Linked DNA regions of Homo sapiens. The protein of the gene in region 2 purifies or fractionates together with the protein of the main gene of each other region. This does not show direct contact. Each region holds a gene or a part of one and is shown on either strand. Other genes may lie near its edges.

The links. Proteins that work in one complex are often made in the same cells at the same time.
Region 1: the proteins of EDN3 (region 2) and MGRN1 purify together in Homo sapiens (co-immunoprecipitation; 2 studies listed by BioGRID and IntAct, with this or other methods). This does not show direct contact.

Annotation. Positions count from the first base shown.
Region 1 is NC_000016.10:4,627,398-4,632,202, reverse strand, and holds part of MGRN1 (E3 ubiquitin-protein ligase MGRN1), read right to left. Parts: intron 1-4,805. UniProt on the Homo sapiens protein: E3 ubiquitin-protein ligase. Mediates monoubiquitination at multiple sites of TSG101 in the presence of UBE2D1, but not of UBE2G1, nor UBE2H. Plays a role in the regulation of endosome-to-lysosome trafficking.
Region 2 is NC_000020.11:59,306,742-59,311,546, forward strand, and holds part of EDN3 (endothelin-3 isoform 1 preproprotein), read left to right. Parts: intron 1-4,805. UniProt on the Homo sapiens protein: Endothelins are endothelium-derived vasoconstrictor peptides.

The DNA.
Region 1 (4,805 bases), on a different chromosome or scaffold from region 2:
TCTACTAAAAATACAAAAATTAGCTGGGCGTGGTGGCATGCACCTGTAGTCCCAGCAACACAGGAGGCTGAGGCAGGAGAGAATCACTTGAACCTGCGAGGCAGAGGTTGGAGTGAGTCAAGATTGCGCCATTGCCCTCCAGCCTGGGTGACAAGAGCAAGACTCCATCTCAAAAAAAAAAAAAAAAAAAAAAAAGGAAATTTTTTATCACTACTAGATTGGGAAGGCAATATATCAGTAATAGATTGGCAAATATCACTTGCCTTAAATAGGTAAAGTTATCTGAAAAAAAAAAACAACTGAGAAGCTAAATATCAAAATTAATGTAGAGATATACCATGTTCATGGATTCCCAGAGTCAGCACTGTAAAGACAGCAATTCTCACCACATAGATTTATATATCCAATGTAATACTTATCAAAATTGCAGGCTGCTTTTGTAGAAATAATTGACAGGCTAATTATAAAATGTATATGGAAATGCAAAGAACTTAGCATAACCAAAACAATTTTGAAAGAGAACAAAGTTGGAGAACTTATGCTACCTGATTTCACAACTTACTATCAAACTACTGTAAACAAGCCAGTGTGCTGCTGGTCTAAGAACAGACCAGGATTTCTCAGTCTAAGCACTATGGATATTCTGGGCCGATTTATTCTTAATTGTGGGGGACTGTCCTGTGGCCTCTACCCAACAGATGCCCCCAGCTGTGACAATCACAAATGTCTCCAGACATGGCCAAATGTCCCTTGAGAGGGCAAAAATGCCCCAGTTGAGAACTTCTGGGACACACATAAATCAATGGAACAGAATGGAGAGTCCCAAAATAAACCCTCACATTCATGGTTAACTGGTGGGGTTCTTGTCGCTGTTGTTTTGATTTTTAAGAGACATGGTCTTGCTTTGTTATCCAGCCACAATGCCTGGCTTAGGTCAACTAATTTTTGACAAAGGTGCAAAGGCAATTTGATGGGAAGATGATAGTCTCTACAACAAATGATACTAAAATAATTGAATTCCATCCACAAAAAAGGGGGGTTTAGATCTTTATCTCAAGCCATAAGTGAAACAAATTAATTTGGTCAGCTACAGCGGCTCACACCTGTAATCCCAGCACTCTGGAAGGCCAAGGTGGGCAGATTGCTTGAGTCCAGGACTTTGAGGCCAGCCTGGACAACACGGTGAAACCCTGTCTCTACAAAAAAAATACAAAAACTTTGCTGGGCATAGTGGTACACATACATAGCTGGGAAAACCCAGCTACTTGGGAGGCTGAGGTGGGAGAATCACCTGAGCCAGGAAGTCAAGGCTAGAGTGACATCATGCCGCTATACTCTAGCCTGAATGACAGAGTAAGACCCTATCTCAAAATTAAAAAAAAAAAAAAAAAAAAGAATTAACTCTAAATGGATCAAAGACCTAAATGTAAGAGCTAAAACTATAAAACTTCTAGAAAAGGCCGGGCACAGCGGCTCACGCCTGTAATCCCAGCAATCTGGGAGGCCAAGGCAGGCAGATCACAAGGTCAGTTTGAGATCAGCCTGGCCAATATGGTGAAAACCCCGTCTCTACTAAAAAATCCAAAAATTAGCCGGGCGTGGTGGCTCGCACCTGTAATCTCAGCTACTCAGTAGGCTGAGGTAGAAGAATCGCTGGAACCCGGGCAGAGGCTGCAGTGAGCTAAGATCATGCCACTACACTCCAGCCTGGGTGACAGAGGGAGACTCCATCTCAAAAAAAACCAACAACAACAACAACAACAAAATGCTAGAAAAAAATAGGAGAAAATCTTTGTGACCTTGACCTAGGCAAAGATTTCTTTTCTTTCTATTTGTTTTTTTTTTTTTGAGACGGCGTCTCACTCTGTCGCTCAGGCTGGAGTGCAGTGGCATAATCTCGGCTCACTGCAACCTCTGCCGCGCTCCGGGTTCCAGCGATTCTTCTGCCTCGGCCTCCCAATTAGCTGGGACTACAGGCACATGCTGCCACACCCAACTAATTTTTTGTATTTTAGGAGACATGGAGTTTCACCATGTTGCCCAGGCTGGTCTCAAACTCCTGAGCTCAGGCAATCCACCCATCTCAGTCTCCCAAAGTGCTAGGATTACAGGCGCGAGCCACTGCACCTGCGCTTTTTTTTTTTTTTTTTTTTTGAGATGGTGTCTCACTGTTTGCCCAGGCTGCAGTGCAGTGGCATGATCTTGGCTCACTGCAACCCAACTCCACCTCCCAGGTTCAAGCAATTCTCCTGACTCAGCCTCCTGAGTAGCTGGGATTACGGGCGTGCGCCATTGCGTCCAGCTCATTTTTGTATTTTTAGTAGAGACGAGGTTTCACCTTGTTGGCCAGGCTGGTCTCGAACTCCTGACCTCAGGTGATCCGCCCACCTCAGCCTCCCAAAATGCTGAGATGACAGGCATGAACCACCACACCCAGCCGCCTGTATGATTTTTTTTTTTTTTTTGAGACGGTGTCTCGCTCTTTCACCAGGCTGGAGTGCAGTGGCGCGATCTAGGCTCACTGCAACCCCCGCCTCCCGGGTTCAAACAATTCTCCTGCCTCAGCCTCCTGAGCAGCTGGGACTACAGGTGTGTGCCACCACGCCCAGCTAATTTTTGTATTTTTAGTAGAGATGGGGTTTCACCATGTTGGCCAGGATGGTCTCAATCTCTTTACCTCATGATCCGCCCACCTTGGCCTCCCAAAGTGCTGGGATTACAGGCGTGAGCCACCATGCCTGGGCCCAAGATTTCTTAAACATAACTCCAAAAGCAGTATCCACTTAAAAAGCAGTAAATGAGACTTCGTCAAAATTCAAAACTTTTGCTCTTCAAAAGAAACACCATTAAGAAAATTAAAAGACAAGCCAGACTGGGAGAAAATATTTGCAAATCACATGGCTGACAGGAGAATCCTATCCAGAACACATAAAGAACTCTTTGTTACAACTCCGTAAGATAAACAATCCAGTTTTTGAAAATTGGACAAAAGACTCAAATAGACACTTTTCACACACACACACACACACACACACACACACACACACACACATACGAACAGAAAGCAGGCCAGGTGCAGTGGCTCACCCCTGTAATCCCAGCACTTTGGAGGCTGAGGTGGGCAGATCACCTGAGGTCGGGAGTTCGAAACCAGCCTTCCCAACATAGTGAAACCCCGTGTCTACTAAAAATACAAAAATTAGCCTGGCATAGTGGCCAGTGCCTATAATCCCAGCTACTTGGGAGGCTGAGGCAGGAGAATCACTTGAAACCAGGAGGCAGAGGTTGCAGTAAGCCAAGATTGCACCACTGCACTCCAGGGCAACAGAGCGAGACTGTCTCAAAAAAAAACAGAAAAGGCTGGGCATAGTGGCTCACACCTGTAATCCTAGCACTTTGGGAGGCCAAGGCAGGCAGATCACCTGAGGTCAGGAGCTCGAGACCAGACTGGCCAATATGGTGAAACCTCATCTGTACCAAAAATTTAAAAATTAGCCGGGCGTGGTGGTGCGCACCTGTAATCCAAGCTACTCAGGAGGCTGAAACAGGAGAATTGCTTGAACCCAGGAGGCGGACGTTGCACTGAGCCGAGATCATGCCACTGCATTGCAACCTGGGCGACAGAGCAACACTCCATCTCAAAGAAAAAAGAAAGCAGATCGCTGATGGGCTGAGGGTGGGGGTTGGGGTAGGGACTCTGCAAACAGATGGAAGGAAACTTTTACAAGGGAAATGTCTGCAATTGTGGTGATGACTGCACAATTCTTTTTTTTGTTGTTGTTGCTTCAATGTCCCCTCCTTTTTTTTTTTTTTTTTTGGAGACAGAGTCACACTCTATCGCCCAGCTGGAGTGCAATGGCGTGATCTCGGCTCACTGCAAGCTTCACCTCCCGGGTTCATGCCATTCTCCTGCCTCAGCCTCCCGAGTGGCTGGGACTACAAGCGCCTGCCACCACACCTGGCTAATTTTTTGTATTTTTAGTAGACATGGGGTTTCACCGTGTTAGCCAGGATGGTCTCGATCTCCTGACCTCGTGATCCGCCTGCCTCGGCCTCCCAAAGTGCTGGGATTACAGGCGTGAGCCACCGCACCCACCCACAATTCTTTTTTTTTTTTTTTTTTGAGACGGAGTCTCACTCTGACACCTAGGCTGGAGTGCAGTGGCGCAGTCTCGGCTCACTGCAACCTCCGCCTCCTGGGTTCACACCATTCTCCTGCCTCAGCTTCCTGAGTAGCTGGGACTACAGGTGCCCGCCACCACACCCAGCTAATTTTTTGTATTTTTGGTAGAGATGGGGTTTCACGGTGTTAGCCAGGATGGTCTTGATCTCCTGACCTTGTGATCCACCTGCCTCAGCCTCCCAAAGTGCTGGGATTACAGGCGTGAACCACCGCGCCCAGCCTTTTTTTTTGAGACGGAGTCTCGCTCTGTCACCCAGGCTGGAGTGCAGTGGCGCAATCTCGGCTCACTGCAGCCTCCACCTCTCAGCTTCAAGCAATTCAGCCTGCCTCAGCCTCCCGCGTAGCTGGGACTATAGACGCCTGCCATCACGCCCGGCTAAATTTTTTTGTATTTTTAGTAGAGACGGGGTTTCCCCGTGTTAGCCAGGATGGTCTCCATCTCCTGACCTTGTGATCCGCCCGCCTTGGCCTCCCAAAGTGATGGGATTATAGGCGTGAGCCACCGCGCCTGGCCAGACGACTGCACAATTCTATAATTTAACTAAAAATCATCAAATCATGTTTACAATGGATGAGTTGTGTGGTACATGAACTACATCTCAATAAAGCTATGAAGAGTAAA
Region 2 (4,805 bases):
GATATTCCAAATTTTAGAACATCCCAATAGAACGGTTGGATCTGGAACCCCAACTTCCTGCACATGAGGAGCCAGCTGAGCACCAGAATGTGATTTTGGGATCCCGATAAAAGTCACCCTGGGCCAGGCGCGGTGGCTCACACCTATAAACCCAACACTTTGGGAGGCTGAGGTGGGCAGATCACTTGAAGTCAGGAGTTTGAGATGAGCCTGGCCAACATGGTGAAACCCCGTCTGTACTAAAAATACAAAAAATAGCCAGGCATGGTGGCATGTGCCTGTAGTCCCAGCTACTGGAGAGGCTGAAGCAGGAGAATCACTTGAACCCAGGAGGTGGAGGTTGCAGTGAGCAGAGATCACGCCACTGCACTCCAGCCTGGGTGACAGACCAAGATTCCATCTCAAAAAAACAAAAGTCACCCTGACCTGTGAGCCACACCTGGCAGTATCATTGTTGGACATGTGGCCATATGAGGCAGAGGGCCAGTCTTTCTGCCATCATGGTTTTGGAAAGGGGTCATGAATAGTCTGCTACTAATCATGGATGGTGAGGATGGCTGACCATGACTGTGACCTCATGTCATCTCATGGGATCAGCTTGACAGCCCCATTAGTTGGATGCTATTGTCCCTGTAGTTTACAGGAAGAAGCTGAGCCCAGGAGGCGGAGTCAGTTGGCCAAGGTTGCAGAGCTTGTGAGTAGGGACTGGGCTGCCAGCCCAGAAGTTTGGCCCTGAAGCCTGCCCTGTAAGCCTCCTCCTGTGTGCATGTTCCCAACATGGGCTTCTTAGGTGACTAATATGCCATCTTAGATGACTCCTGCTTTCGTTCATTTAATATGTTTTCCCAGAGTGCCTCACCTGGGTCAGTATTGAATGGGGCTCTGGGACCCAAGAATGAATAAAAGACATGGTTCCCCATCCGTGACTGATTAAGGGTGGTTTTGTTCTTTTTGAGACAGTGTCTCATTCTGTCGCCCAGGCTGAAGTGCAGTGATGCAATCATAGGTCACTGCAACTTTGAACTCCTGGGCTCAATCGAATCTCCCACCTCAGCCTCCCGAGTAGCTGGAACCACAGGTGCGTGTCACCATGCCTAGCTAATTTAGTAATTTTTTTTTTTTTTTGTAGAGATCGGGTCTTGTTACATTGTTAGGGCTGGGGTTTTGTTCTTTTTGATAGTGATGATTCATATATATAATTCTATGTAATCATATATTTACCCTTTTGCAAGATTATTTTTATTAACATATGTTAACACATGGGCAAAACCCAAATCCTTGGTCCATCACAAGTCCTAAATTTTATTCTGGAAATGTAGCCTTGGCTTGCATAGAAGCATGTGATTTTCCTTTAGCCTACCAGAGCCCTTGGTGGTTTCTCTGTGGGTAAGAGGGGCTGGTTGAGTGTGCACTCCAAGCAAACCAGAAGGTTTGTCCTGATGTCAGAGATGCTGGGACAGAGGGGGCTGAGTCTAGGCGAGAGGGCGAGGGACCCCCAGGCCATGAGTCTCATTCCTGGTGCAGGATTTTTCTTTTCTTGGCTGCTGCTCTGTGCCTTGTTCTGTCTTCTTGCTTCTTGGTGTGGTTACGGGAGCAGGGCAGACATAGGAGGTGGGACTGCTCAAATCCATCTCTTCTTGCAGATCCAGCTTCACACTTTGGTTTAGAGACTCCTGGGGTTTAGAGAGGAATGGGGCCTGGGGCCCACTCATCCAAATTGTCACGTGGAGGAGGAACAGATCCCTTTGTAGGGGTTAAGAGCTCAAACTGTGGGCTCGAATGCCTGGGCTGAAATCTGGATCTGCCACTTAGGAGATGTCACCTCTGAGACCTTCAGTGTCCCCATCTAGAGAGTGGGGGAATAGATAGCACTCTATGAGGAAAGATGTTTTCAGGATGACACAAGAAAGTACACAGGGCGTGGTTAGCACAGCGCCTACAATCTAGTAAACACTCAACGTCTTGAAGATGGTGGCCACAATGATAACAACACAACCTCCAGCCCTGCAGAAGCCCTTCCTGGGCCAAAACCAGTCCTCCTGCCATATCCAATCCTGTGATTGGAGGATGCTGGCTGGTGAGTAGAAAGTCCTTGCTCAAGTTCTGCTGGGGTCCACCTCTTTGGACCTTCTGACTCTGATCTTAGCTCCTGGAGTGCCCCGGAGCAAACCTGTCCACCCTGTCCCCTGCAGGACGGTCTGTTAGCCTCAATTAGCAGAAAGCTTACAGACTCTGGGAAAAGGTGTGCCTGGCTGTCTGCTGTTGCTGATAAGCAGCCTGATAAAGACTCTGTGGTCAAAGGTTGCTGGGCTGGGCTGAGATTCAGTCCCGCCCTTCCAGCCCCTCCTTTCTGCTTTCTATTGCTTCCCTCTCCCCTTGGTAAATCACTGAAAGTTTTCAGTAATGGGGCATGGCGCTCTTTGCGGGCACCCGTCTGGGGCTGTGTCTGTGAAATAGGAGGTAGGGGTGGTGATTGGGGTGATTAGGGTCTCAGTTCAGGAGAACAGGAATGATCTGTTTACCTCTTTGTTAAACACCTATGCTGAGAGCTCTGTGAGGCATCTGTGGCTCTCATGTCCTTGGTACGTCCAGCAGAGTAGATATAATGCCTTGTAATTTGCAGCTGAGGACCCCATGGGGCACCAGTAGCCTCACTTCTGACTTCACCCAGCATTGCCCAGGACCTGAAGTGGGTGTCACCAACTGGGAGTCACCAGGAAGCAATCGAGGAAATCCCACAGACATCTATTTAGAAAACATCATTTCATGATGTGCTTTTGAGACGGGCATGTGAAAGAAGAGGGTGTTGGCCAGATTAAAAGGGACCCTGAGCTTGAGGTTCTGACTGATCATGGTTTCAGGAGGTTTTTCCCCTCACATAACCATTTCTATCTCTTCCTTAGAAATTAGCACACTTTTGGGTACCAGTTTTGAGTTGGAGTGGCATATTTCTTAGAACACTGGACGGCAAGATACTTCTTTAAAATTGGGGAGACTTAGGGCTAAGTTTCGCAGTTTGTTGGAAAGGTCAGTCCTACGAGGACTTTTCTGTTGGGGATGCACAGGTAGAAAGCCCGTTTTCTGCCCCAGAGTCAGCAGGAAGTGTGAGTGGTCCAGGAACAAAAACAGACTTGGTGGAATGCAACTAATCTCCACTTGGGAGACAGAGGGACTTGAGGCTGGAAGGCAGTTTGATTTGTAGCAAGAAAACTTGGTACAAAGAGGTTGTGACCCTGTGTGACCCCGAGGGAGAATTTGGATTTGTGCTAGATGAAAGGGCCATTACAGTGAGGAACTTGGCCTTCAATCTGAAGGCACATGAAAGGCTCTGATGTGTCTGGTCATGTTTGTTCCTGCAAGAATTTAAAACAAAGGAAGCTGGGAGGCAAACAATGCTTCTGCTTTATAATTCCAGTTCCAAACCTCAGAGGGGGAGCTGTAAAGGGTGACCCTGTCTACGGCACCACCCCGCGTTCCAGTGTATTGGAAGTGGATGGTCTCTGTTTTGCATGAGAAAGTGACCTGGTCTCCTTCCTTGTCATGTTTCAGTTGAAACAGAGTTCCTCAAAATTGGAAATGCACACACACATACACACAGACTTTTGCCCACTTTGGAATAGAAATTAATTGCACTCGGAAAATAAATTGCAGAGCATGGCTGAGTACAGACAGCCACATGTGAATGAATTGTTTGTCCGCATAGTTTTGGGGGCTTCGGAATCCTGGCTCACCCACCAAACCTCCCAAGAATAGACAGACAGGATGAGGCATCAGCTCTCTTTCTCATCTGCCCCACCTCAGAGTCTTAGGAGGGCCAAGAGCTTTGGGAGACCTTGGGGACATTCACAGGCTTGGAAGCACTGGCCTCTTCTTCTTTTGTGGCCTCCTCAGGGCAGACTTGGTGGGAGCTCTTAATAAACAGTAACTCAGGAACAGAACAGTCAGGGAGGCCTGGTCCCTGGCCCAGTAATTGAAAAACCAGAAACAGCTTCATTTCATATGCATTGATGACAAAAGTACCGACAGACGCAACCAAAAACATGACTGGCCCGCTGGTGGACAGTTTCGCCCCACAACTTGGGGAGCGCAAATTGCTTTGCCGAGAGTCAGAAGCAACTACATGAGACAGCAGAGGTCCATGTAACTTTTCTGGATTTTTAGGAATCTGATTTCCATGGGTCTCTTGCAGGGCTGAGAATAGACTGGGGTGAGTGAGGCACTCCCTCATGTACAAACTTTCAGGAGGCACCAGAAAGTAGGAAAAAACAAGTAAAATGTAATGCACTATTTTCAGAAAGCCAAAATGAGTGCAAAAAAAAATTCATAATCGACCAAATATTGTTTTTAGTAAAGGCAGGATCCAGCCCTGAGCTTGCTCCACTTACCTCACCTGCCTCACCCTAATCCCAGCCCTGGCATCTTGCTTGAGGATAAAGCCTGTGTCTCTAATAGAGACTCAGTAGTTTGAGGTAAGTGATAAATCTATTGGAGCTATTACTGGAAAGGGGTCCCGATCCAGACCCCAAGAGAGGGTTCTTGCACCTCGAGCAAGAAAGAATTCAAGGCAAGTCCATAGAGTAAAGCGAAAGCAAATGTATTAGAGAAGTAAAGAAACAAAAGAATGGCTGCTCCATAGAGCAGTGGTATGGGCTGCTTGATTGAGTATACTTACAGTTATTTTTCGATCCTATGCTAAACAAGGGGTGGGTTATTCATGAATTCCTGGAACTGAGGTTCCCCCTTCCTAGACCATATAGGGTGACTTCCTGATGTTGCCATGGCATTTGTAAACTGTCATGGCGCTG